Linked DNA regions of Homo sapiens: region 1 is linked to region 2. Evidence: fine-mapped expression QTL. A gene starts in region 2. The other region holds a variant in brackets. All regions are shown on one strand. Distances are between the middles of the regions. Region 1 holds the start of OVOL1 (ovo like transcriptional repressor 1). Region 2 holds the start of ZFPL1 (zinc finger protein like 1).

The links.
Region 1: its variant is fine-mapped to the expression of ZFPL1 in whole blood (TOPMed, PIP 0.91).

What each region holds. Positions count from the first base shown.
Region 1 is chr11:65,780,986-65,790,121 of GRCh38, forward strand. It overlaps OVOL1 (ovo like transcriptional repressor 1), which reads left to right and starts at 6,078. Exons shown (of 4, transcript NM_004561.4): 1 at 6,078-6,488. The coding sequence starts at 6,389. It overlaps LOC124902693, which reads right to left. Exons shown (of 7, transcript XM_047427980.1): 7 at 8,016-8,452. OVOL1-AS1 (OVOL1 antisense RNA 1) reads right to left here. Exons shown (of 2, transcript NR_108085.1): 2 at 8,016-8,452. RefSeq lists a silencer at 1-444 and enhancers at 705-1,362, 4,783-5,764. The variant G/A (reference allele first, on the strand shown) is at 5,857.
Region 2 is chr11:65,072,862-65,088,218 of GRCh38, forward strand. ZFPL1 (zinc finger protein like 1) reads left to right here and starts at 11,361. Exons shown (of 8, transcript NM_006782.4): 1 at 11,361-11,517; 2 at 11,830-11,939; 3 at 12,254-12,365; 4 at 13,554-13,747; 5 at 13,859-13,931; 6 at 14,067-14,213; 7 at 14,455-14,572; 8 at 15,067-15,357. The coding sequence starts at 11,838. The coding sequence ends at 15,253. CDCA5 (cell division cycle associated 5) reads right to left here and starts at 11,179. Exons shown (of 6, transcript NM_080668.4): 1 at 11,072-11,179; 2 at 10,768-10,862; 3 at 10,624-10,689; 4 at 10,503-10,538; 5 at 6,492-6,926; 6 at 4,592-6,326. The coding sequence starts at 11,117. The coding sequence ends at 6,246. RefSeq lists enhancers at 5,770-6,271, 10,911-11,140, 11,221-11,490, 12,080-12,664.

The DNA of each region.
Region 1 (9,136 bases), 710 kb after region 2:
GGGCGGGGCGCGGCGCGGGGGCGGCCGAGTCCGGGCGGGGAGGGGCGGGGCGTAACGGGGCCACCGCCTCCCGCAGGTGTCGACTCGCAGGTTTCGCGGGGGCTGACTAACTGTCCCGCCGCGCAGGCCCCCTTCCCCGAAACCGCCGCAGGCCGGGGCAGGAAAGGCGGAGGGGAGTGGGTAGGGGTGGCGGAGCGGGGTGGGCCTGGGCCCCAGATGCCGGGTACCGCGGCGCAGGGCTGCGATCCCGCGGCCCTCGGCGGACAGCGGCCCGGTCCCACCAGCGCCCGCCAAGCCGCGCAGGGCGGCAGCCAGCGCGCCCCCCGCCGGCGCCCGGGCACACCGCACCCTGCGCCAGACGCGCGGCCCCGGGGGGCGTGGGTGCGGGTCCTGGGGCTCCCGGAGTGGCCCCTGGGGGTGACCAAGGTGCGGTCGCAGGGCGCCCGCAGGAAAAGCGCCCCAGCTGAACCGGTCCGGCGGGCGCCGCAGGGCTTGGCTTCGCTTCCCTGACGCCTGCCCGGGCCCCCAGCCCGCTCGGCTTGGGGGCGAGGAGCCGGCGCCGCGGTTGCGGCCAGCCAGGAGCTTCTGACCTTTGTTTGCCCGAGGCCGCGCTGGCGGCCCGCAGGGGTCGTGACGGCGAGGGCGGGGCAGGGCCCTAAGTCGAAAACAACGGGATCCATACTCGGGAAGTGCGGGCTGTCAGGGCCTGGCCGGTCACGGGGCTCGAGGCATGCCTAGCGATGGGGAAAACAGGCCCAGGAGGAGGGCGGCCTTGCCAACCGAGATCTGGGGCCAAGCCGGGCCGGAACCCAGCACTCCAGACTTCAGTGGGCTGGATTCTGGCTGTTTGGGGGCATTCGGGGGTCTGGGCGGCGGTCTCTCCCAGGCCAGAGGCCCAGGTTGCAGGTGCCCCACAGACCACCGGTTTCCAGGGCACAGAACCGCCGGCGCCCAAACCTCACCACCCCTCTGGCTCCAATTAGCCGCTTTGAAGATGAAACAGGCCTGAGCCCCCATGCAAGCCAGTGCCAGCTGGCCTCTCCCTACCCCATCCTGCTCCAGATGGGAGGTGGTGGAGAGTTGAGGGGTGGAGAGTGCCAAAAAGGAGGCTGTCTGGGTGCCCTTGGGGATGGAGAGATAGAGACCCACTCGGAGGGACAGGTCCAGCCAGAAGGCCCGGTCCCGGCTCCTCTAGGCCCTGGCTCCACAGTTGACTCACAGGCAGCAGCCCCAAACTACTTCCCTCTAGGTGCCTCAGTTTCCCCATCTATAAAATGGGAGTGATAACTCCCACCCAAGAGGCTGTGGGGTGAGGCAGCCTGGCTAATTAAACCCAAGATGAAAGAGGCAGGATGAGAGCAGCCCTGGGGAGGGGAGGCAGCCTGCAGTAGGAGCCAGTCTGGTTTCTCTGTCTGAGCCCAGAGGGTGCTGGTAACTGCACATCCCCGGCCCTCACCACCCTCACGGTGAGGCAGGAATGATCATTAAACTTCTTGCAGAGTTGAGAAGACAGGTTTCCAAGGATCAGGGGGCCTGACACTGGCTCTGGCCCCGGCTCAGCCTCTGACAGCGTGGCCTCTGCACACCTCCTGCCTGAGTCTTGACTCCTTGAGGCTGAGGGTCTGGAGGGAGGGAACCCACTTGTGGTCTCCAATACTGCAGTGGACGAATCCGCATGGACTTACTGAGGCTCACAGCAACCCCAGGTACCGAGAGTGGGTATCAGATGAGGAAAGGGAAGCCCACAGAGGTACGGTCTCTCAGTCACAGAGCCCCTCAGAGGTGGAGCCTCGACTTCCACAAACAGCCCCTTGTTGCATCTGACCTGGTCCTCCCCCCACACCAGGTACCCTCGGCCCTCTTGGGTGTCCAGGTCCCTGGATGGGCCCTGTTCTCACCTGTCTGCTCCCCTATTGGCGGGTGGTGCTGGCTCTGTCCCTGGCAAGGCCAGGCATGGAGCTGAGCTCAGACTGTCACCGGACTCACCCGGGACAGCAACATCCCAGTCGAGGGCCCAGGTGTGGGCCACTGCCGGATGCTGAGCTGGGAATTCCCCACTCCACGCCCTCCCTCATTTCTTCTCCTGCTGAGTTTCTGTCCTCCCCATGCAGCCCAGTTGTGGGCAGACACTAAACACAAGGCTTGTAAAAGGGAAAGTCAGCTTCCCAAGGGGTCCTGAGCCTCAGTTTTCTCATCTGTAAAATCGGGCTACAACAAACACACTCTCGCAGCACTGGCTGCTGGGGATACAGGAAGGCTTAGGAAAGAACGAGTCAATAGGCAAAGCCATGGAGATAGAGCAGATAGTGGGTGCTGGGCCAGGGGGAAGGGAGACACAGTGACAGCTAATGAGTACAGGGTTTTCTTTGGGGCCATGAAAATGTTCTGAGATTTAGTGATGATGGTTGTACAGCTCTGTGAGGTTACTAAAAACCAGTGAATTGTACATCTTACAAAAGGGTGAATTTGATGGTATATGAATTCTATCTAAATAAAGCTATTTAAAATGGTGTTTAAAAAGGGGTCCCACCCCAGACCAGCAGGGGCACAAAAAGTAAAAATAAAAAATAAGGCCGGGCACGGTGGCTCACTCCTGTAATCCCAGCCTTTGGGAGGCTGAGGCGGGCAGATCACGAGGTCAGGAGATTGAGACCATCCTGGAGAACATGGTGAAACCCCGTCTCTACTAAAAATACAAAAAAATTAGCTGGGCATGGTGGCGGGCGCCTGTAAGTCCCAGCTACTCAGGAGGCTGAGGCAGGAGAATGGCGTGAACCAGGGGGTCGGAGCTTGCAGTGAGCCGAGATCACGCCACTGCTCTCCAGCCTGGACGACAGGGAGACACCGTCTCAAAAAAAATAAATAAAAATAAAAAAGTAAAATAAAAAGGGGTCCCTCAAGTTCAGAACTTGCACTGGTGGGGAGGAGAACCAACAATAAACAAGAAAGACAAACGAAACGCCACAGAGTCAAAGTTGTGGCAAAGAAAATAGGATAGTGGGACAGAGGTGGCAGGGGACAAGGATTTAGCTGGGGTGGATGGAGAGGCCCCTCAGAAGAGGGGACATTTGGTTGAAACCTGAATGAAGAAAGGTGGCCAGTAATCCAGTAGGGAAAAGTGTTCCAGGCAGAAGGAGCATCGGGAGGAGGGGCCAGAGCTGGGAACAGGCCAAGGCTTGTTCAGGGGACGCGGGAGACAGCAGTGTGGCTGGCATACAGGGACCCAGCTGGAAGGGGATTGGGAGGTCAACGGCGGCCCCAGCACGCCAGGCCTCAGGCTCTTATTCCAGCTGCAGTGAAGCCACTGGAGGGTGTGAGCCGAGGGGAGGCCTGGCCTGGGTTTTAAGAGCACCTCGTGTGGCCCACCTGCCTCTCCAACCTCAGCTTCCCTACCCTCTCTTCCCCCCACCGCACGGCCAGGTTGCATTTGGGTTCGCGGTACACACTAGGCTCACTCCTGCTCAGGGCCTTGGCATCAGCTGTTCCTTCTGCTGGTCATGATCTTCTCCACTCTGCACAGCTGGCTCCACCCTCTCATTCAGGCCTCAGCACCCCTACCTGCCACCATCACATTCTCTCGCCAAATGTTCTCTGTGCATCTTAGGCTTCTGCTTGTTTCCTTGTTTCTTTGTCTGCCTTGCCTTGTAGAATCTCAGTGCCTGGCACAGCAGGTTCTCAGGAATTAAGGGAAGAATTACGGGATGAATGAACACCATCTAGCTGGCACTGTGCTGCTAGATGAACAGAGATGTACTGCTAGATGTGGTGAACAGAGCACAGGCCGCCAGCCTTCGTGACACTCACAGTTCAACTCCGTGTTTCCCCGCCGTCACATACATCGTCTGTCTCCTGAGCTGCCCGTGAAGACAGCCACACCACACACCGCGGCCTGTGGGTCAAACCTAACCCACAAAGGTGTTTTGTTGGATCCATTCCATGTTTTAAAATTTTTTGATTAGCTGGGTGTGGTGGCAAACACCTGTAGTCCCAGCTACTCAGGAGGCTGAGGCAGGAGGATCACTTGAGCCCAGTAATTCGAGATTGCACCACTGTGCTCCAGCCAGGCGACCTGGTGAGACCCCAACTCTTAAAATTATTTTAAAAATAAAAAAATTGAGCTAACATTTAAAAATTAGTTGATTTCACTTACAAATCTGGACTTCTGGCTTCTCTTGGAAAATGGAAAGCTGTGGCCACGTGGGGTTTGTGCATCTGAATGACAGGATTGTGACTGCCGTTTAGATAGGGACATTCTCTCCCGTCCCCCCAACTCTGTTCTCCCCAACGGCCAGGGCCAGTTGTGTTTTCTCACTGAATTTGTAGTATTGTCTTCCCATATCTATGTCTCCACCAAAAGTTGGACTGTGAAAGGTGAATGGGTCACAGGAGTCAAGAAAAGAGGATATTCATTCATTCAACAAACATTTATTGATAACCCACTTTGTGCCAGGCACAGCTGTAGATGCTGGAGATATAGCAGTAGACAACACCGCCTCCCACCTGGGGCCCCATTCCACATCCTGTAACTCACTTGTGCAGGGAGGGGTTCCCCTGGCTGGCTTCACTTTATCTACCCAGTGTCCTGTCCCTCTGGACATTGGAGTTGCTCCCTTGATGGGGAAGACTGCCCCTTGTGTCTAGGGACATCTGTGAAGACTTCACCGTAGTATCCACCGAGCACCCACTGTGTACCAGCCCATCAGGGCTTGGCACAACAAAACTGCTCAACCAATATTTGTTGAATGAATGAACTAACTGCACCTCTGTCCTAGACAGATTGTGTTTAAGGTTGTTTCTCCTGGATTCACCTCAAAAGATAGGCACATACCAGGTGTTCACTTAATGTCAGTTGAACTCAAAGGTCTGGCTGGGATCAGAGTGGAGGTCACAGCCCTTAGAAAGGCAGGGGAAGAGGCAAACACGAACGCCCCATCCCTGCCCTTAAGTAGGTCAGCGAGTGAAGGAAGCCCAGCCAGCGCCCAAGTGTCACGATGAGAGTGTGGGCTTCATGGAGGCCTCTGAGGAGCGGGGGCATCCCTCCACGTGGGCCTGGGGCCTGAGGAGAGTATGAAGAGTGGCTGGGGGCGCGGGTCCCAGGCTGAACCTCAGCCCTGGGCAGGCCGTGGGTAGGAAGCTCTCCGCGGTGGCCGCAGCAGGGCAAAGGCGGCTGAGCCTTTCCCGGTCTGAGGTCCCCAGCCCTCCGCGCTCCACCAGCCTGGCTGCACCTGAAATCCACCCATTTGGGACAAGGAGGAGTTTTTTTGAGGATGCATAAGTCCCACTGGCCAAGACACGGGGGTCTGTCGGGCTCTCGGCGCACTCCGCGCAGTTGAAGCCACTTCCTCCGTGAAGCCCTCCGGGCAGAAGGCGGGTTCTCCGACGGGTACTCGGTCGCGCGGTCCGTGCCTCCCCACACACCGGCCGGGGCCGCTCCTGCGGCCCTGCGTGCCTTTTCGCACAAAGCCGGCGCCCAGCAAACACCTCCCCGGCTGAGCCACGAGTTGCTTAGCCAAGCCTTTGGGATCCCGCGCCGCCTGGGCCCAGGCCCGGTTCAACAAGTGCGGACCGGGCCGCCCGTTCCCGCCCGGCGGCTTCGCGCCTCCCCAGGAGCCTCGGGCGCGCCGGGTTGGGCCGGCCCCAGTGGGGCGAGTTTCGTGTCATCACCCGCGGAGCGTGCCAGCGCCGGTGCAAATAACGTTGCCCCCTCCCTCCCGGCTCCGCTCGCTCCGAAACTCCTGTTTGCAAACGCCAGTACGCCTGGCTAGGAGGTCCCGCGGGGGCCGGGCCGGCTGGGCAGCCAGGGGCTGAGTGCCCGAAGCTCGCCCCCCGACCCCGCCCCGCCCGGCCGCCCCGCCC[G/A]GGCCGCGAGGCCACCTCACCCGCAGCGGAATGGAAACCGGTTCGACAGGTAACAAATAGGTGGGTTGTCACCGTTATTTCCCAACGCATGCGCCGTCGCTCCCCGGGCCACCCCAAGCTAATTAGATCAGATCACCGCCCCCCACCCCCACCCCCCCCCGCCCCAGCCACCAACACACACCGCCGCGAGCCAATAAAGCGTGAACCCGTCCGTCCGGCTCGCACTTTAAGACTTCCCGAGCGGCGGCGGGGACGCCAGTCGAGCCGGGAGACGCTTACCTGCCGCTTCCCCGCGCCGCCCGGTGCACCTGGCCGCAAGGGACCTCGTTCTCAGGGAAGACGGCGACATTCCGCGGAGGTGGAACCGCCGCGCGCCGTCCGGGCTCGGACCTTCCCCGGAACGTGGGGGCGCCTTAGCGACTCCTTCCCTGTTGTGCCCCCGTTCCCGGCGTTCAGCCCGGCCCCGCAAAGGTGGGACGGCTCCCGGCTTCAGTTACGGAAGCGGCCCGTGTCCAGCGACGAGGGTTCGAAAATGCCCCGCGCGTTCCTGGTGAAGAAGCCGTGCGTCTCCACGTGCAAGAGGAACTGGAGCGAGCTCCCCGACGAGGAGCGCGGCGAGATCTACGTGCCAGGTGAGGCTCCAACCGCCCTCCGGCCTGGGGCACCCGCGGCGGCGTCGAGGCTGCGGGCGGGCGGGCGGGCGCAGGTCCGCGGAGCCAGGCGGCAGGCGCGGTGTGGGCGCCGGGGCTGAATGCGGCCGCGGCCTGGGCTGGGTGGGCCCGCGGCTCTCGACCCGGGACTCGGGGGGCGGGGGCGGGGCCGGCGGAAGAGCGCTGGTCGGGGCGGGGGCTGCATGGTGGAAGGGGAGCCGCTCCCAGGGCCAGGGGGCGCGGAACCGCCTACCCCCACCCCCTGAACCGCGGCACAGAGGAGGCAGCGGGGTGTGTCACCGCTCAGGCGACCCTCGGCTCCGACGTCGTAAATCCAGAAAACCGGGACTCGCATGAGGCGGGAGAAGGCACTGGAGCGATGCCACTTTGGGGGGCGGGGAGCGGGCTGGAGTTTCGGCCGAGATTTGTGTTAAAAGCTCAGAGCTTCAGCCGCTCGCACAGGTCCTTCCTCCTCCCCCACAACACTGGTGGCCGGGTCGGAGTGAGGGTCGGGCCGGTGGGGGGCGTGGGCCCCCAAATTTTCGTTGGGCTCCGGCTGCTAGTCCCGCGCAGTGAGCCGAGACGGTGGGACAGGCGCCCGCTGCGCCCCGCTTGCCCTTAAAGCAGAGGTGGGATCGGGTCTCACCTCTGCTAGAAACGCACTTCCTTCACCTTGCGGAGGGCACAATTGCATGGAAAGCAGCTGCAGGGAGCCCACCCCACAGCGGAGGGCCAGGCCCGGGGAAGCTGGTGTACCCAGTTATTTTTGGCAGACGCCTAGACAGCGTCGACTGTGAGAGTTGCTTCTTCCTCCAGCGGCATCTTCCCCTGAACGCCCCAAGAACACTCCTACCCCTTCTGTCCTCCCCCACCCCCAACAAAGTCTTTGGTCTGGAGAAAGCCTGCTTCCTTCCGAACGCCCCCTCCCCAGGCCTTGGGGGCGGGGCGTGGACGCTCTGAACGCCCAGCCCAGCCCCTCCGAGGGGGGAGGGGAGGAGTAATTAACCAACTGACTTTGACCCTTGATCTGCAGACTCCCTGGCACCGCCCCAGGCCTTGTAGGAAAGTGGGGAAATGAGGGCAGCAGTGAGGGGCCCCGTGAGGGCTCTTGCTCAGTTTCCCTCCTGAATAAGCTGTTGGAGACAGTGTCCTGGTGAGGTCTTTGTGGCCTGACCTTCCAGGACCCAGTGGCCTGTGGCGCTGGCAGGATGTTTCACAGCTTAACCTGATCTCAAGGGGACCCCTCTTCCACCGTTCCTTAAAACAAGGGAATGTGCCAGAAGACCCTGGTAACCCCAGTGGGGAAACTGAGGCAAAAAGGGAAGTGAGTGGCCTCCCCACCTGAGGCAGATTAGGGTGTGGGCTCAGAATTCTGTGTATAGCTTCTTGCTTGGCCACACTCCCTGGTGAGCTGGCTGGTTCTCTACCTGGGGGTTGGTGGGGGCACGCAGAGGGCCAGAGCCCCCTCCCCGCTCCGCCCTCCGCCCTCCACCCTCACCTGTGTTTGACTTGCTGCTTAGCTGCTCCTTGGGATCTGATAAACTGAACTTGGACCGTGGTAAAGGTGAGCTGAGCCCTGAGCCAGGCTCAGTGTGCTGTTATTTTTAGTTTTATTTCACATCCCAATCAGTAACAGATCATGTGTTGATTTTTACAAAGGACAAAGAAATTCCGTTGGTTGAAATCATTGACTTCTTTTTGTCCTAGCTATTTTCTCTGCCACACTTCCAGTGGCCACAGTGGAAGTGGCAGGGGAGACGTATGCCCCAGGGGCTTCCTGTCAGGTGCAGGAGAGGGCCTCTGGGTGGTCCAGGCCACCCGCTGGCACCATCCAGGTGAGGGAGACCTGCCGGCTTCTCTGTAGGCTCCTCCAGGATGTGTGGCGGGAGTCCAATCTCAAGGATGAAGGGAGAATTTGTCCTCATCCCCATGGCAAGGAGAGAATCCTGTGGGTCAAGTAAAGGGTAGAAGATAGAGAACTTAATTTTACCTCTGAAAGTCATGTGGCCCACTGGAGAGTTTTCCCACAGTTTTTGGCAATGAGAAAGGGACTGTCCTCAGTCCACGCTCGGGTGCCTCAGATGGCTGGAGAGTGGGGGTGCGTTTTGTGCTGGCCTGTCCCCTGGCTGGGCCATTCCATCACCAGCCAACCATGACCCCAGAGCCAGCTGGGCACGTTTCCGTTCACCTCACAGATTCCTGGTAAGTTGTGACCAGCTAAGCGTTGACCCCATTTCCAGTGGAGGGCCCAGGAATGTGGGAGTGTTTGAGTTCTGACCTTCCTGCCAGGTTCCTCTGAGACCCTCAAAGCCTCCCAGAAGGTTTTGGGAGAAGGTTTTACAGGCCAGAGACACTGGTCCCCAGCCCGACAGCACTGATTCCAGGGCCCCAGTTTGACAATCCCATCAGCCTCTCTCCCCAAGGCAGAATTCTAGAGCTTCTTACTCCCGGGGCAGAATCTTTCCCCTGGGAAGAGGTGAAGATGGTTGCAAGCACCCTGGAGATTTGAAAGGATTACTGGCTAGGAAGCCACCTTGAACCGCTCCCCCACCCACCCCCCCAACCACCCTCCCCTCGCCTTCCTTTGTTATGTCAATATTGACTTGGAGTGACAGGGAGTAATGCTGGTT
Region 2 (15,357 bases):
GAATGGTCAGTTCTACTTGAAAATTGTTCATTGAGCACTTACCATGCACCAAGTGCTTTACTTGTATTATTTCATTCTTTTTTTTTTTTTTTTTTTTTTTGAGATGGAGTTTCTCTCTTTCACCCAGGCTGGAGTGAAGTGGCATGATCTTGGCTCACTGCAACCTCCACCCGCCAGGGTTCAAGTGATTCTCCTGCCTCAGCCTCCCGAGTAGCTGGGATTACAGGTGCCCGCCACCATGCCCGGCTAATTTTTGTATTTTTAGTAGAGACGAGGTTTCACCATCTTGGCCAGGCTGGTCTTGAACTCCTGACCTCAAGTAATCCAACCACCTCAGCCTCCCAAAGTGCTGGGATTACAGGTGTGAGCCACCGCGCCCGGCCGACTATCTCATTTTTAAACACTGTGGCATAGGTATTATTATTGTCCTCATTTTACTGTTAAGGAAACTGAGGCACATCAGAGTCTAATTATTATCATTTGCCTGGGATCACACAGCTAGAAGCTGGCAGAGCCAGGATTCAAACCCAGTTGGATTGCAGAACCTGTGCTCTTTGCTTTCACCAGGGTGGGGCAGGTGGGGAGGAAAGGCTGAGCAGGGGTGACGCGTGAGCCAGACTTAATGACGCGGGGCTCCCCAGGTGACGCAGGAGTGGGGAAAGACACGAGAGGCAGAGAGCAAAGGTTCAGAGGCAGGGACCTCCAAGCAGCTCGCAGCCTGCGGTGGGTCTGTGGGCTGAAGCCTGGACACCAGCCTCGGCCTGGAGTCCTCATGAGCCCCACTAAGGTGTCAGGAGCCCCCTAGACCAGCCAGGGTTCTGGGGTGCAAACAGGAAACAATGTTGGCTGATTTGAGCAAAAAGGAGTTTATTGGGAGGATGCTGGGGAGTCACAGAACTCACGGGAAGAAGAGACTTCAAAGGGCAGGCACTGTAGGGCGCCGACTGCCAGAACTAGGACAGGGGAGGGCCTGCAGATGGACAAACACGCATTCCCCACACCAGACACTGCTGGACAGGCGGTGCCTTCATCCCTCCTCACACCCATCACTCAAGGTGGAGAATCTGATCAGTTTAGGTCCTGGTTGCCGGGATCAGGGAGAGCAAGCATCTGGGATATTCACTCCCACTGAGTGGCTGGGGTCCTGCAGACAGCACATGCCTGGAGGCTGAGACGCTACTGGGCAGCCAGGCACCAGCGACCATTCATTCCACTGCTGCACGGAGCATGGGAAGTCAGCAGAGGTTTCTGTTTCGGCTGGAGTGCAGTGGCACAATATCGGCTCACTGCAACTTCCACCTCCTGGGTTCAAGCCATTCTCCTGCCTCAGCCACCCAAGTAGCTGGGATTACAGGCACCCGCCACCACGCCCACCTAATTTTTCTATTGTTAGTAGAGATGGGGTTTCACCATGTTGGCCAGGCTGGTCTTGAACTCCTGACCTCAAGTGACCCACCAACCTTGGCCTCCCAAAATGCTGGGATTACAAGTGTGAGCCACCGCGCCTGGCCCAATTTCCTCCTTTTTAAGGCTGAATAATATTCCACTGTATTGATAGGTCACACTTTATCCATTCAGCTGCTGGTAGACATTTGTGTTGTTTCCAGCTTTTTGGTTATTGTTGAATAATGCTGCTAGGAACTTGGTGTACAAATCTATTCCAATGCCTGCTTTCAACTTTCTCTGGTCTTATTACACTCAGGTGTGAAATTGTATTAAAAGGTTTTAAAGGCCAGGCATGGTGACACGTGCCTGTAGTCTCAGCTACTTGGGCAGCTGAGGTGGAAGGATGGCTTGAGTCTGGGAAGTGGAGGTTGCAGTGAGCCCAGATCACAATACTGCAGTCCAGCCTGGGCGACGGAGCCAGACCTTGTCTCAAAAAAAAAAAAAAAAAAAAAAAAAAATTGGCAGGGGTTTTGGCTGGGCATGGTGGCTCACACCTCTAATCCCAGCACTTTAGGAGGCCAAGGAGGGTGGATCACCTGAGGTCGGGAGTTCAAGACCAGTCTGACCAACATGGAGAAACCCCGTCTCTTACTAAAAATACAAAATTAGCTGGGCGTGGTGGCACATGCCTGTAATTCCAGCTACTCAGGAGGCTGAGGCAGGAGAATCGCTTGAACTCGGGAGGTGGAGGTTGTGGTGAGCCGAGATCGTGCCATTGCACTCCAGCCTGGGTGACAAGAGTGAAACTCCGTCTCAAAAAAAAAAAAAAAAAAAAGGGTTTTAAGGAGGGGAGAAATAGGCCCGGCGTGCCAGCCACGGTGATTCACGCCTATAACCCCAGCACTTTGGGAGGCTGAGTTGGGCGGACCACCTGAGGTCAGAAATTAGAGACCAGCTTGGCCAACATAACGAAACCCCGTCTCTACTAAAAATAGAAAAATTAGCCGGGTGTGGCAGTGGGCACCTGTAATCCTAGCTACTTGGGAGGCTGAGGCAGGAGAATCACTTGAACCCAGGAGGTGGAGGTTGCAGTCAGCCGAGATTGCACCACTGCACTCTAGCCTGGGCAACAAAAGTGAAACTCCATCTCAAAAATAAAAATAAAAAATTAAGGAGGGGAGAAACAGGATCATATTGTGTGTTTTAGGAAATGTGTTCTAGCTGCAGTGCAGACAGTGTGGAGATACAGCAGCCCAAGGGAATGACCCACAGGAGGCTAGTGCAATTGTCTAGTGGCTGTGGGGTGGGGGGGATGTTGAGGGGGATGGGGCTGGCCACATGGGGTGAAGGAAGAAGGAGCTGGTCCTGGGTTCCTGGCCCGTGTGACTGTGTCAGCTGGTGGCTCTGCTAATGGCACAGAGAACACAGGAGTAGGCAAGCTGCTGGATGAGCAGAGCTTCAGATGACTTCCTGAAAGGCAGTTCTAGATTCTGATTTGTAGCTCAGGACAGTTTTAGGTTGGAGATAAAGATGGACAAGTCTTGAGCAAGGAGGCAGTCCAGAGAGCGAGGCTACCCGGCAAGAGCAGGCAGGTGGGAAAGAGGGTCCAGGACTGAGGCCTGGTATCCAGACATTTCAGGAAAAGCCAAGAAAAAGGAGCTGGCAGTGCCACAGCCCCAAAGAGGGTGTCCTGGCAGAGGCCCGAGCTTAGTATGTTGGATATTAGGACATCACTGGTTACCTTTGTCTGAGCTGTTAAAGAGAGTGACGAGGGCATTGGGAATAAATTCAAAGTAAAGAGCAACTTGGAACGTTCCTTCAAGCTTAAAATGGTGGTAGCTAACGACAGATGCTGGTCGACTTTTGGTTGTCTTTTTTGTCTTTTGAAACAGGGTCTTTACTCTGTTGCCCAGACTGGAGTGCAATGGCGTCACCATGGCTCACTGTAGCCCCGACCTCCCAGGCTCAGGTGATCCTCCCACCTCAGCCTCCTGAGTAGCTGGACTGCAGATATGTGCCACCACGCCCATTTATTTTTTTTACATTTTTTGTAGTCAGGATCTCCCTATGTTGCCCAGGCTGGTCTTGAACTCCTGAGCTCAAGTGATCCTCCTGCCTCAGCTTCCCAAAGTGCTGGGATTACAGGTGTCAGCCACTGTGCCCAGCCTGGTTGTCATTTTTTAACAACAAAGCAAATAAAAGCCATTTAGGACTTGGAAGAAAAAGAAGAGGAAGGTTTCAGAGACAAGATAATTGGATCAAAAACCAAAGTGGAAAGGCTAGCCTTGAAGAGGGGACCCATCTCCTCTGGGTGGGGGAAGGAGGTCAAAGCGGATTAAGTCTGTGGAGAACTTAATGGCTTTGATTTGTTTGGATGACTAGGAGGCAAGTACAAGTGTGGAGGATGGGATGGGAGGCTGGTCTGTGCCACCTGCCTGTAGGGTCCTAGCCTTACCTAAGGCCAAGTGGGAGAATTTCCAGGCATCAGCATCTTTGATCAGCTCCCCAGGGTCCCACAGCACCTGCTGCTACACAGTGTCCAGTCTGGACCATGGAGTGAGCAACTCGGGCTCCTTCAAAGGAGCCTGAAAGGGAATGGGGAACGAGGGCTGGACTCGGGAGGGTGTTTGCTTCCCAGGCATCTCCCGTGGGCACTGGGGGAGCTCTTAGCACTCTCACCCCAGACCCGACTTTCTTCCTCCTAGAAGAGGAGCAGACTGGGGACTGGACAGAAATAAACAAGACACGGGGCAGGACAGGCCAGGCGCAGTGGCTCACGCCTGTAATCCCAACACTTTGGGAGGCCGAGGAGGGCAGATCACTTGAGGTCAGAGTTCAAGACCAGCCTGGCCAACATGGTGAAACCTCATCTCTAATAAAAATATAAAAATTAGCCAGGCGTGGTGGTGGGCACCTGTAACCCCAGCTACTTGGGAGGCTGAGGCAGGAGAATCGCTTGAACCTGGGAGGCAGAGGTTGCAGTCAACTGAGATCACGCCACTGGACTCCAGCCTGGGAGACAGAGCTAGACTCTGTCTCAAAGAAAAAAAAAAGTGTGTGGGGCACAGTGATCTACCATGGGGCGAATGCGGGGAAGCGGGGCTGGGAGCGCCTGGACAAAGGGACAACCCCAGTGATGCAGCCCACTGGAGGCCTGGCCTTACCTTCGGCTCTGCCTTTGACTCAATAAAAGAAACACAGTCCATGAACAGGCAGAAACTCTTTAATCAGGCTTTTTTTCCAACTCTAAAACAAAATCCCATTTTTTCCTTAAATTTAGTTCCTCAGGAACAGAGAACTTTGCAATGATGATCTCAACTCTGCATCATCTGGTGACTCCTGATTCTGCAGGACTAAGACATTTCCCAAGAGTTCTGCTGCATCAGCCAGTGAGGACAAGAGTTCTTCAGTGCGGTTCAGCTCAAGGACACCTAGGCTTCCCCAGCAGGGGGCTTGCTTGCAGGTCTGACAAACCACAGAGCGTTGAGCAGATGGCCTGGGACTCCCAGACCTGGCAGAGGGTTTTATTAGGGCCCGCCTGGCCTGCACCGTTTCATCCAAGTACCCTGACCCAGCACTCATCTTCCCTGGCATTCTCTGTTATCCACCAGCTCCTCTGCACACCTCAGCGTCTACTTCCACGAACTTCTAAACATCAAAAGGTACAATGGCCAGGGGTGCGGCAGGAGAGTCGGGGGCAGGGCAGCCTTCAAATCCACACTATTGAATCCACACGATGGAAAGAAGAGAAAGATGGGGAAATTCTCCAGAGATCATGAGATGCATCCAGGCAGTGTTCTCATGTGAGAGGATAGGGAGGCCAAAAACTAAAATTGCTATCAGCCCCCGCCGCTGTCTGGTACGCGAGGAAACTTTCCGAGGACTTTACAAGCATAGTTGCAAAATGCTAGTAGGTCTGGGACTCTTCAACTTTCTCTTCTAGGGCCAAGTAGACTCGGTGTAACTTATTTTGTAAGAAATGGGTATGGGTGACAAGAGGGGCCACCTTCCACCCCTGCAGCAGAGTGGTAAGACTCCAGCGTGGGCCCTGTGCAAGGGACCAGCCCAGAGGCCATGAGCCACAGAAACTCACAGCACCTGGTGGCCACACCCTGAAATGCACCCTTTGCTCCAAGCAGCCAGCGCCCTATCAACCTGGCATTTACCAAACATCTCAACAGCAGACCAGAACTAGAAAACACAGCTTCTGTGTAGTACACACTTATGGTCTGAGACCCAACTAAGGCTCCCTACATCCTTCAAAACTCAGACTCCACAGGCTGAATGTCCAGCTTCTTCCTCCAAGACAGAATTGCCCTCAGCCCACGAATTCTCTCTGGGACTATTTACAGAATCAAAGGGGAAACCCACGGAACTGAAAACCTCTTTACACAGGTGGGTTCAAGAAGAAAGCCACCAACAGAAGGCAACTCAGGAGGGAGAGGCCGAGGCTGGCAGAGCCCCTGGGCCTATTTCCAAGCAGCCACCCCTCCCAACAAGAGCAGAGGTGCCTCTCACCTCAACCCTCAGCCCTTTAACTTCTGGCTGGGCCACTGATTCTCCTCCCCAGTCTGTGGCCCATCTGGAAACTGGCTATGGTACTTTGGGGAGATAGGAAGGACAGGACGACAAGAGACAGGACACCAGTGAGTGGCTGGGCCAGGCGGCCCCATTTCCTAAAACCAAGATGGCTGCCGCTGCTGCCCAAGCCCTCAAAGGCAGACAGTCCTCATGCGCAGCACCAGCACACACACAGGTAACAAGACCAGGGGAGGGGACCCTAAGTGTCCTCTCCACAGGGAGGTGGCTATGTACAGGACAGGAGGGAGAGTCTGGCCAGGTGCACCCCCCACTGCATCTCATTCAACCAGGAGATCAAACTGCTCAGCAGCTTCAAACTCGGCATTCATGGCCGCAGCCCACTCATCCAGCTCCGTTTTCTGAGGGAAGAGAAATGAGGAGCAGGTGAGTGAGAAGGGAACATGGTGGCTGGAGCATCTCACCCACACCCTGCAGGTGCTGCCTATCCCCCAAAAGAGCCAGAGCCCCAGCCCTGCACGTCTCCCAGAGCACACGGCAGAGAAAAACCCCTGCCTCTCACTCACCAAGATCTCTGGCATTTTCTTCTTCTTACGTTTCTGTTTCTCGGGTGGTGGGGAGATTCCAGGGAGAGTCATGTCTGGGGCCCAGGGCTTTGCACAAACCCTGGGGACCTCGGTGAGTTTGGAGCACACCACTGGCGAGACTCCGGACAAGTCTTCTGCCCCCAGCAGCCCCTCGAAGCCAAAGCAGGACCGGCGGCCTGGGGTGGAGGTAGAGGCAGAGCCCAGGGTCTCCAGCCGGCTGTAGGAACGCCTGACTTTCTTAGACATTTCCAAGTCTCTGGCGTCCAGCTCTCCTTCCTTGGAGCTGGACTCGGCCTCAGGGTTCGGCACAGGAGTGCTGGTGGGGGTGGCAGGGACGCTGTGTGTCTTGAAAAGGTCCTCCTTAGTAAGCTCCCTGCCAGGGGGCTCGTTTTCTTTCTCCAAGAAAAAGGAAATCTGCACCAGGACAGAAGAGGGGATGCCCTCAATACTTAGCTGGACTGCTTACTTCCAGAAAAGCCCGAGAAGATTCAGGGTGGAAAGACCCACAGGACACACACTTTTTTTTTTTTTTTTTGAGACGGAGTCTTGCTCTCTCGCCCAGGCTGGAGTGCAGTGGCATGATCTCGGCTCACTGCAAGCTCCGCCTCCCGGGTTCACGCCATTCTCCTGCCTCAGCCTTCCGAGTAGCTGGGACTACAGGCGCCCGCCACCTCGCCCGGCTAATTTTTTGTATTTTTAGTAGAGACGGGGTTTCACCGTGTTAGCCAGGAGGGTCTCGATTTCCTGACCTCGTGATCCGCCCGCCTCGGCCTCCCAAAGTGCTGGGATTACAGGCGTGAGCCACCATGCCCGGCCAACACACACTTTTTTTAAGGAAGGGACAAATCAGACCCTGAAAGAGACATGGAGAGAAGAAAACAACCCACCATTGCTTCCAAGGAGTCTGCTTTTGTGACACAAATGGACTTGCCCCCATCTGCTGGTGCTGTCGCTTGTTTCCAAAATGTGCCCAGCATCCAGCCTCTCCTCTGACCAACTCAAGCCCTCATTAGGTGTCTTCTAGACCAGCTCAGCAACGTTTTTTGTTTTGTTTCCAGATAAACGGTCTCAACTCTGTTGCCCAGGCTGGAGTGCAGTGGCACGATCATGGCTCACTGAAGCCTCAGCCTCCAGGGCTCACGCAATCCTCCTACCTCAGCCTCTGAGTAGCCGGGACTACAGGCATGTGACACTCTGTCTGGCTGATTTTTTTTTAGTTTCTTTGTAGAGTAGGGGAGGTCTCCCTTTGTTGCCCAGGCTGGTCCCAGCGACCTTCTGATTTCTCTCCCTGTTTCCACCCTTGCCTGCTGTGGTCCATCTGCCACACAGCTGATGAGGATTGTCCTAAATGTCCACTCAGTCCATAAGTATTTATCAGTCACCTGTCCTGTGCCAGGCACTGGGAACACAGCAGGGAATAAAACAGAGAAAACCCCTGCCCCATTCTAAGAGAAAAACAGGTAAGAAAATTCAGTATTATGTTAGCAGTATCAAGCACTACAGGAAAACAGAACAGGAGAGAGTGCTTGGGGCAGGTTAGAATTGCAAAAAGATAAAGGTCAATACATCCCTCACTGAGGTGACATTCAAGCTACAACTTGAAGGAGGTGTGGGAGTGACTCATGGCCAAGTTCTAGGCAGTGGGAACAGAAGGTGCAACAACCCTGAGGCCACAGTGTACTAGTCAGGGTCAAACAACAAGGAGGCCAGTGTGGCTGAAGTGAAGGCAAGAGGAAGAAACTGAAGATGAAGTTCAAGAGATAATGGGTGGCCAGATATGGTGGTTCACACCTATAATCCCAGCACTTTGGGAGGCTGAGGTGGGTGGATCACCTGAGGTCAGGAGTTTGAGACCAGCCTGGCCAACATAGTGAAACCCCATCTCTACTGAAAATACAAAAAAAATTAGCCAGGTGTGGTAGCAGGTGCCTGTAAGCCCAGCTACTTGGGAGGCTGAGGCAGGAGAATCGGTTGAACCTGGGAGGCGGAGGTTGCAGTGAGCCGAGATTGCGCCACTGCACTCCAGCCTGGGTGACAGTGCGAGACTCCATCTCAAAAAAAAAAAACACAGGGAAGCTGAACAAATTGGTGGTCACTGCTGACTACGACTTCCTCATTCTCTATAGCCAAGCAGTCACCCAGGTCCTGGCAACTTTATCCTGCTCGATGTACCATGAATCTCAGTCAATCAACAAGAATGAGTGGCTACTAGGAAAGGCAGAAGTCCCTACCCTCAAGGTGCCTGTGTTCTTAGAGGGGGGAGAGAAAGACATCAAACATGCAAGAAAATACACTATAAGAACTGATAAGGACCAGGCACAGTGGCTCATGCCTGTAATCCCAACACTTTAGGAGGCCAAGGTGGGAGGATCACTTGAGCCCAGGAGTTCAAGACCGGCCTGGGCAACATAGTGAACCCTCATCTCTATAAAAAAAATTAGAGAAAACATCAAAAAATTAGCCAGGCATGGTGGCATGTGACTATAGTCCCAGCTACTTGAGAGGCTGAGGAGGGAAGATCTGCAGTGAGCCGAAATCTCGCCACTGCACTCCAGCCTGGGTGGCAGAACAAGACCCTATCTTTAGAACTGGTAAGGCCTAAGAGAATTACATAGAGAAATGTGACAGCAATAGGGTAAGGGTGGTCAGGGAAGGCCACTGGGGGGCAATTCCCTCTGAACCCAGTACTGTATATCATCCTGGCTTTAGCTCACGCCCTTGGCTTCATGCTTCAGAATTCCTGGACTTCACGTCATTCCACTGGTCTTGGAGCCCCAGGGTAGCCCTTCTCAAAACCATTCTCCCCACAGCCCCCAGAGGGGTCTTTCTTAAAACACTCAAACTTGACTCGGTCACTACCTTACCCAGAACTCTCCAAAGGCTGCCCACAGACCCAAGAATGATGCCCAAGCCATGAGTGTGGCTTTTGTGCCTCATCAGGATCTGCTCTGCCTTAGGGTGCTTCCTCCCCTGCTGAGGTCTGCTGCAGACACTAAACAAATTGCTATTCCCCGAACCTTGATTTTTCTTTAAATTCCCAATCTCTGCAAACATGGCTTCTTTGACCTGGAACAAACCTACTTGTCTTTTTTTTTTTTTTTTTTTTTGAGATGGAGTCTCGCTTTGTCACCCAGGCTGGAGTGCAGGGGCGTGATCTCGGCCCACTGCAACCTCCGCCTCCTGGGTTTAAGCGATTCTCCTGCCTCAGCCTCCTGAGTAGCTGGGACTATAGGCACGTGCCACCATGCCTGGCTAATTTTGTATTTTTAGTAGACACAGGGTTTCACCACGTTGGCCAGGCTGGTCTTAAACTCTTGACCACAAGTGATCTGCCCGCCTCAGCCTCCCAAAATGCTAGGATCACAAGCGTGAGCCACTGCACCCGGCCTCTACTTGTCTTTAAAGACTCAGTTCAAATGTTTCTTCTTCCACGAAACATTCCCTGAGCCACATGGTCTGGGTTAGCTACCATCATAGCATCTAGTATTCCTTATTGCAGTCCCAGTACACAACGTTGCTATCACTTGTCATTGGTCTTTCTCCCCAGTTGACTCTAAGCCCTATCAGCTCTTCAAAGGAGTTCACATTTCTCAGTCAGTATGTCTTCAGATTGTCTATTAATGAAACATCCTTTGATAATAACTTCTGCTAAAACTGTAAAAATGTCATACACATGACTTATCTCAGAACACCCATACATGAAAGCTGAAGGCATAATGGATTAGAAAGGCAGTACGTGGAGTTAAGACATAGCTCAGCTTTTAAAGGAAGTTCCAGGAAAATGGTAGAAATACACAAGGCATAAAAAGTTAAGTGTATTAAGTCTTCAGGGAGTAATCAAGACTGGCAATGCATGCAGGTGCCCACAGGCAAACTGTTTTTGCAGTACTGCAAAACAGCTCCCTGGGCAGATGTGAGGAGCCAATGTGTGCTGTCCAGCTCTAGAGTGACCCAGATTCTACTTAATTAAGTAGATGAAAGTGAACTCACCCTAGGGCTCCTGCGAGGTGATTGGACAGCTGGGACCTGCGGGGGACAATACCAATTGATCACATAGCTGGTCCCCAGTTTTGCCCGCCTAACCACCCACAACACTCTCCTTAGCCTTTACCTCTACAGCATGGGCCACGATCCTCTTTAAGACGATGGGCTTTCTGACTGCAGCCGCACTGGGTGTCTGGAGAAGAGGGATGAACGTGAGCTCAACATTAGGTGAGGGGCCACAAGGGGAGGAAGTGAGAAATCTGGGGCTCACCTTCGGCCAGATTTCAGGGAGGATGCTCGGGAGTTCAGAGCCTGATTTCCGCTGGGACCTCCGCAGAGGCTTAGTAGGAGATGGGGCCCTTGGCCCTGGAAAGAGAAAAAAGTTAAGTGGTAGAGGAGGACTCTAGACCTTAGAGTCCAGAGAACAGGTTCTAGAGACAGCGAGAAGATTCCCAAACAAGCCCTTTTAAGGGCGCCTCCTCCGGCGGCGGCAGCGGGAGGGAAGAGGCCATCTTTCACCGGACTGCGTCCCCCAAACGGCTCGACCTCACGTCTCCCGCGCGCCCTCCGCTCACCGGAGCGCTGAGCGGCTCCTCCGGACCGCGTTCGCCTCCCAGACATAACTTAGGCTCCGTCTCGAGCTCCTCCAGCGCCGCCGCCCCGGGCGCGCGCCAACCGGGAAGGCCACTCGCTGCAAAAAACGTTCGAATTACCCGCCCTGCGGGAAAGGAAGCGGAAGTGACGTAGGGCTAGCGGTCTGCGGCCCTCGGAACCCCGAGTCTTTTCCACCCGTCTTCACCTCTAGCGGCAGCGGAGGCGTGGCCCAGGGGCGCGATGGCGTCATCAGCGCGCGCCGCACCCGGAAGAGACGTGGCAGCGGAGGGATAATCGGGGCGGCCGGGGCTGAAGGGAGAGGCGCAGGAGCCCTGGGGAGAGTGGTCCCTGCCCTTCCGCGCCTCGAGCCATCGCTACCGCCCTTCGGAACCAGTGCAGCGGCCGATCAGTAAACACAGAGACTGGGGTCTGTAGAGAAGGGGCGGGACTTGGAGGGGGTGGGGCTCAGGAGAGGTCTTGGGGGCGGGGCCGGTAGTATCGGGGAGCCTCTGATGGAGGGGCCTGGCCGGGGGCGGGATCCAGAAGGATTGAGGGGTCGCCGGAGGCGGGATTTATGCAGGGGGTGTTTCTCCGCATAAGGAGGGACAGTGGGCAGGAATCTGAGATCGGGGCGAATATGAGAGGTGTCTGGGGGAGTTAAGAGTGGAAACTGGGCTGGTGAGAGCGTAGTGGTGGCCACCAGAACCTGACTTCCTACCAACTCATGCCCCTTTCCCAGGATCGATCATGGGGCTTTGTAAGTGCCCCAAGAGAAAGGTGACCAACCTGTTCTGCTTCGAACATCGGGTCAACGTCTGCGAGCACTGCCTGGTAGCCAATCACGCCAAGGTGGGGCCTTCAGGGGAGCGACTGAGCAGGGCACTGGGTGGGCAAGGCGGTATTGGCTTCCTCCAAATCCATGAGGGGCCCCGCGCTAGAATGTAAGCCCCACAAGGGCAAGGACTTGATTTATTTTGTTCACTGATATATCCCCCGTTCCCAAGAGAGAGTCTGGTGCACAGTATGTGCTCAATAAATATTTATTGATTAAACAAACGAAAGGATGAGTCTCCTCTGTGGCTAGAGAAAAAGAGACAGTCGGACCTTGGGGTGATAGGCCGAGCAGCCCCAGCACCAGTTGTGACATCTCTCTCCCACTCCAGTGCATCGTCCAGTCCTACCTGCAATGGCTCCAAGATAGCGACTACAACCCCAATTGCCGCCTGTGCAACATACCCCTGGCCAGCCGAGAGACGACCCGCCTTGTCTGCTATGGTGAGGCCTTGGCACCTCGGGGGGATCAGGCCAGCCTCAGGGGCCAGCTTGGTGACTGGTTTCCAGGCCCTCCTCAAGCAGCAGGACAGTGAGTCCCCCGAGTCTCAGAGCCCAGATTCTAGTCCTGTTAAAGTTCCTTACCTGCTGTGTAAGTTCAGGCAAGTTATTCTTCCTTTCTAGGCCTCACTGTCTTTCCTAAAAATTAAAGCTCCTAGTTCCTCTTTCCTAAAAATTAAGCCCTGCCAATCTGGAGGTTTCAGCGAGAACCAGTCAAGCTTACGGGTATGCTGGTGGCCGTGACTATTAGCTAGCCAGACCGGCATGTTGCTTTCAGATATTCAGGATCCACCACTGATTCCAAGGCTAAACAGAGAGGAAGTGAGTTTCCCACATTAAAGTTAGCTAAAAGAAGTCAGCAGACATATGTGTCATGACTTTGACCTGAATCTGGGGTAAGAGCCTTAGCTCCAGTTTTTGAAGGAGCTCATGCAAGAGTCAGCTCCATATGTGTTTCTCCTTGTGAGTGCATGTGTGTACTTGCAGGCACTTAATGTACATTGTGTGTTTAAATGAGTGTTAGTGTGTTGATCTGTACTTGGGGTGAATGAATGGGTAAATGTATGTATGTGAACATATGAACACAGGTGTGTTGTGGGAGTGCAAGAGAATGCATGGTTGAGGGTGCCTGTTAGCAAACCTGTGAGTGTATAGATGTGTATGTGTGAGGGCTCCTGTACCCATAGTGTAGATATAGGGAATGCCACTTGTGTTTGATTATGTGCTTATAAGGACATGTACATTTGTGCCCAGGGATGTGTACATGTATATGTGTGCCTGTGTGTGTATCGAGGAACCTTTTCTGAAACTGTTCATTATTAGCCATTAGCCCAAAGAATATGATGAGTGCAGGCCCAGAGAGGACTCATTGAAAGGACTGAAAGGGGAGGTGGCGTTTTCTTCCTACCCAAACTTACCCCTGTGAGCTGGACAGCTTGGTAGCACCTGCCTGGACTTAGATGGTGGTAGCCAAGAAGACTGACATTTTAGGGAACAGGACGGGGAGGAGAAGGCTCTGGCACACACACATGTGTCCATATGTCCTGCAATGGTCTGGGGACTATTGCTAGGCTAGGAGCCCTAAGTGTCTTCTTCCTCATGTCTCTTCTCCCCTGTCTCATGGGCCCTAAGATCTCTTTCACTGGGCCTGCCTCAATGAACGTGCTGCCCAGCTACCCCGAAACACGGCACCTGCCGGCTATCAGTGCCCCAGCTGCAATGGCCCCATCTTCCCCCCAACCAACCTGGCTGGCCCCGTGGCCTCCGCACTGAGAGAGAAGCTGGCCACAGTCAACTGGGCCCGGGCAGGACTGGGCCTCCCTCTGGTGAGAGTCCCTCGTCTGTCTGACCATCTATCTGCCCTGGGCCCCACCTGAGTCAGATGGGTGGGTGGGGACAATACTAGGCAGCCTGGTGACCCAGATTCCTTCCTCCAGATCGATGAGGTGGTGAGCCCAGAGCCCGAGCCCCTCAACACGTCTGACTTCTCTGACTGGTCTAGTTTTAATGGTAAGTGGTGGCTTCCACCGACTGTTTGGGCTTTAGCCTCCCTGCTCTGCTGACAGCTCCCTTGGTCTGCAGTCACATGCTCTACCCCTGAGCTCTATGCACTGCTTCTGCTGACGGCTCTCTTTCCACCCACAGCCAGCAGTACCCCTGGACCAGAGGAGGTAGACAGCGCCTCTGCTGCCCCAGCCTTCTACAGCCAGGCCCCCCGGCCCCCAGCTTCCCCAGGCCGGCCCGAGCAGCACACAGTGATCCACATGGGCAATCCTGAGCCCTTGACTCACGGTGAGCCTGGGAGTTATCCAGGCCGCAGAAGGATAGGAAGAGGGTGGAATGGTTTGTATAGGGGGAGCTTGAGGATCCAGAGACCCACCCGGAGGAACCTTTCCTTAATCCAGGCACAGCCATTACCTCCTCACAATTCTGAGATGTTCTGTCAGACTGAGGAGAGCAGGTGATCCCCCTAGCCCTCCCCAAAGCGGCCAGTTTTCCTGAGTCTATTGATGCTAGTGGCTCCACCCTGTAGCCCCTAGGAAGGTGTATGATACGCGGGATGATGACCGGACACCAGGCCTCCATGGAGACTGTGACGATGACAAGTACCGACGTCGGCCGGCCTTGGGTTGGCTGGCCCGGCTGCTAAGGTACACAGGGTCAGGCAGGGCGGAATGCCAGGAAGGGGTGGAGAGGGAATGGGAGCCAGAGGTCCTGGAAGGGATGGTTTCATGACAAAAGGGGCTTGTTCTGGGGAGTAACAGTACCTGGTGCTGGGGCTGTGCAGAGAGGCCTTGGCTGTGCAGCAGAAGCTGTGTTTTGCTTCTCTCTGGGACTGTCTCTATGCCTCCTACACAGGAGGTTTGAACTCAGGCTCTTTGAGGCCCCTTCCCGATCTGACACCCCCTAATCTTTGTAATTCTCCCCGACGTCTGACACACTGTGGTTTCCAGAATACAGTCGTGCGCCTCAGCTGGTTTGAGCTGCACAATAACGCCCTATGGTGGCAGGTGCAGGAGTGATCATCCCTGAGGCACAGACGAGGAGATGGAGGCTCAGGAATGGGTGGTGACCAGGGCTTCTCTCCAGCCGCGGGGGCCACCAGGGACTGGGGCCTGACCTGATTTTCCCCTCATCCCCCCAGGAGCCGGGCTGGGTCTCGGAAGCGGCCGCTGACCCTGCTCCAGCGGGCGGGGCTGCTGCTACTCTTGGGACTGCTGGGCTTCCTGGCCCTCCTTGCCCTCATGTCTCGCCTAGGCCGGGCCGCAGCTGACAGCGATCCCAACCTGGACCCACTCATGAACCCTCACATCCGCGTGGGCCCCTCCTGAGCCCCCTTGCTTGTGGCTAGGCCAGCCTAGGATGTGGGTTCTGTGGAGGAGAGGCGGGGTAATGGGGAGGCTGAGGGCACCTCTTCACTGCCCCTCTCCCTCAA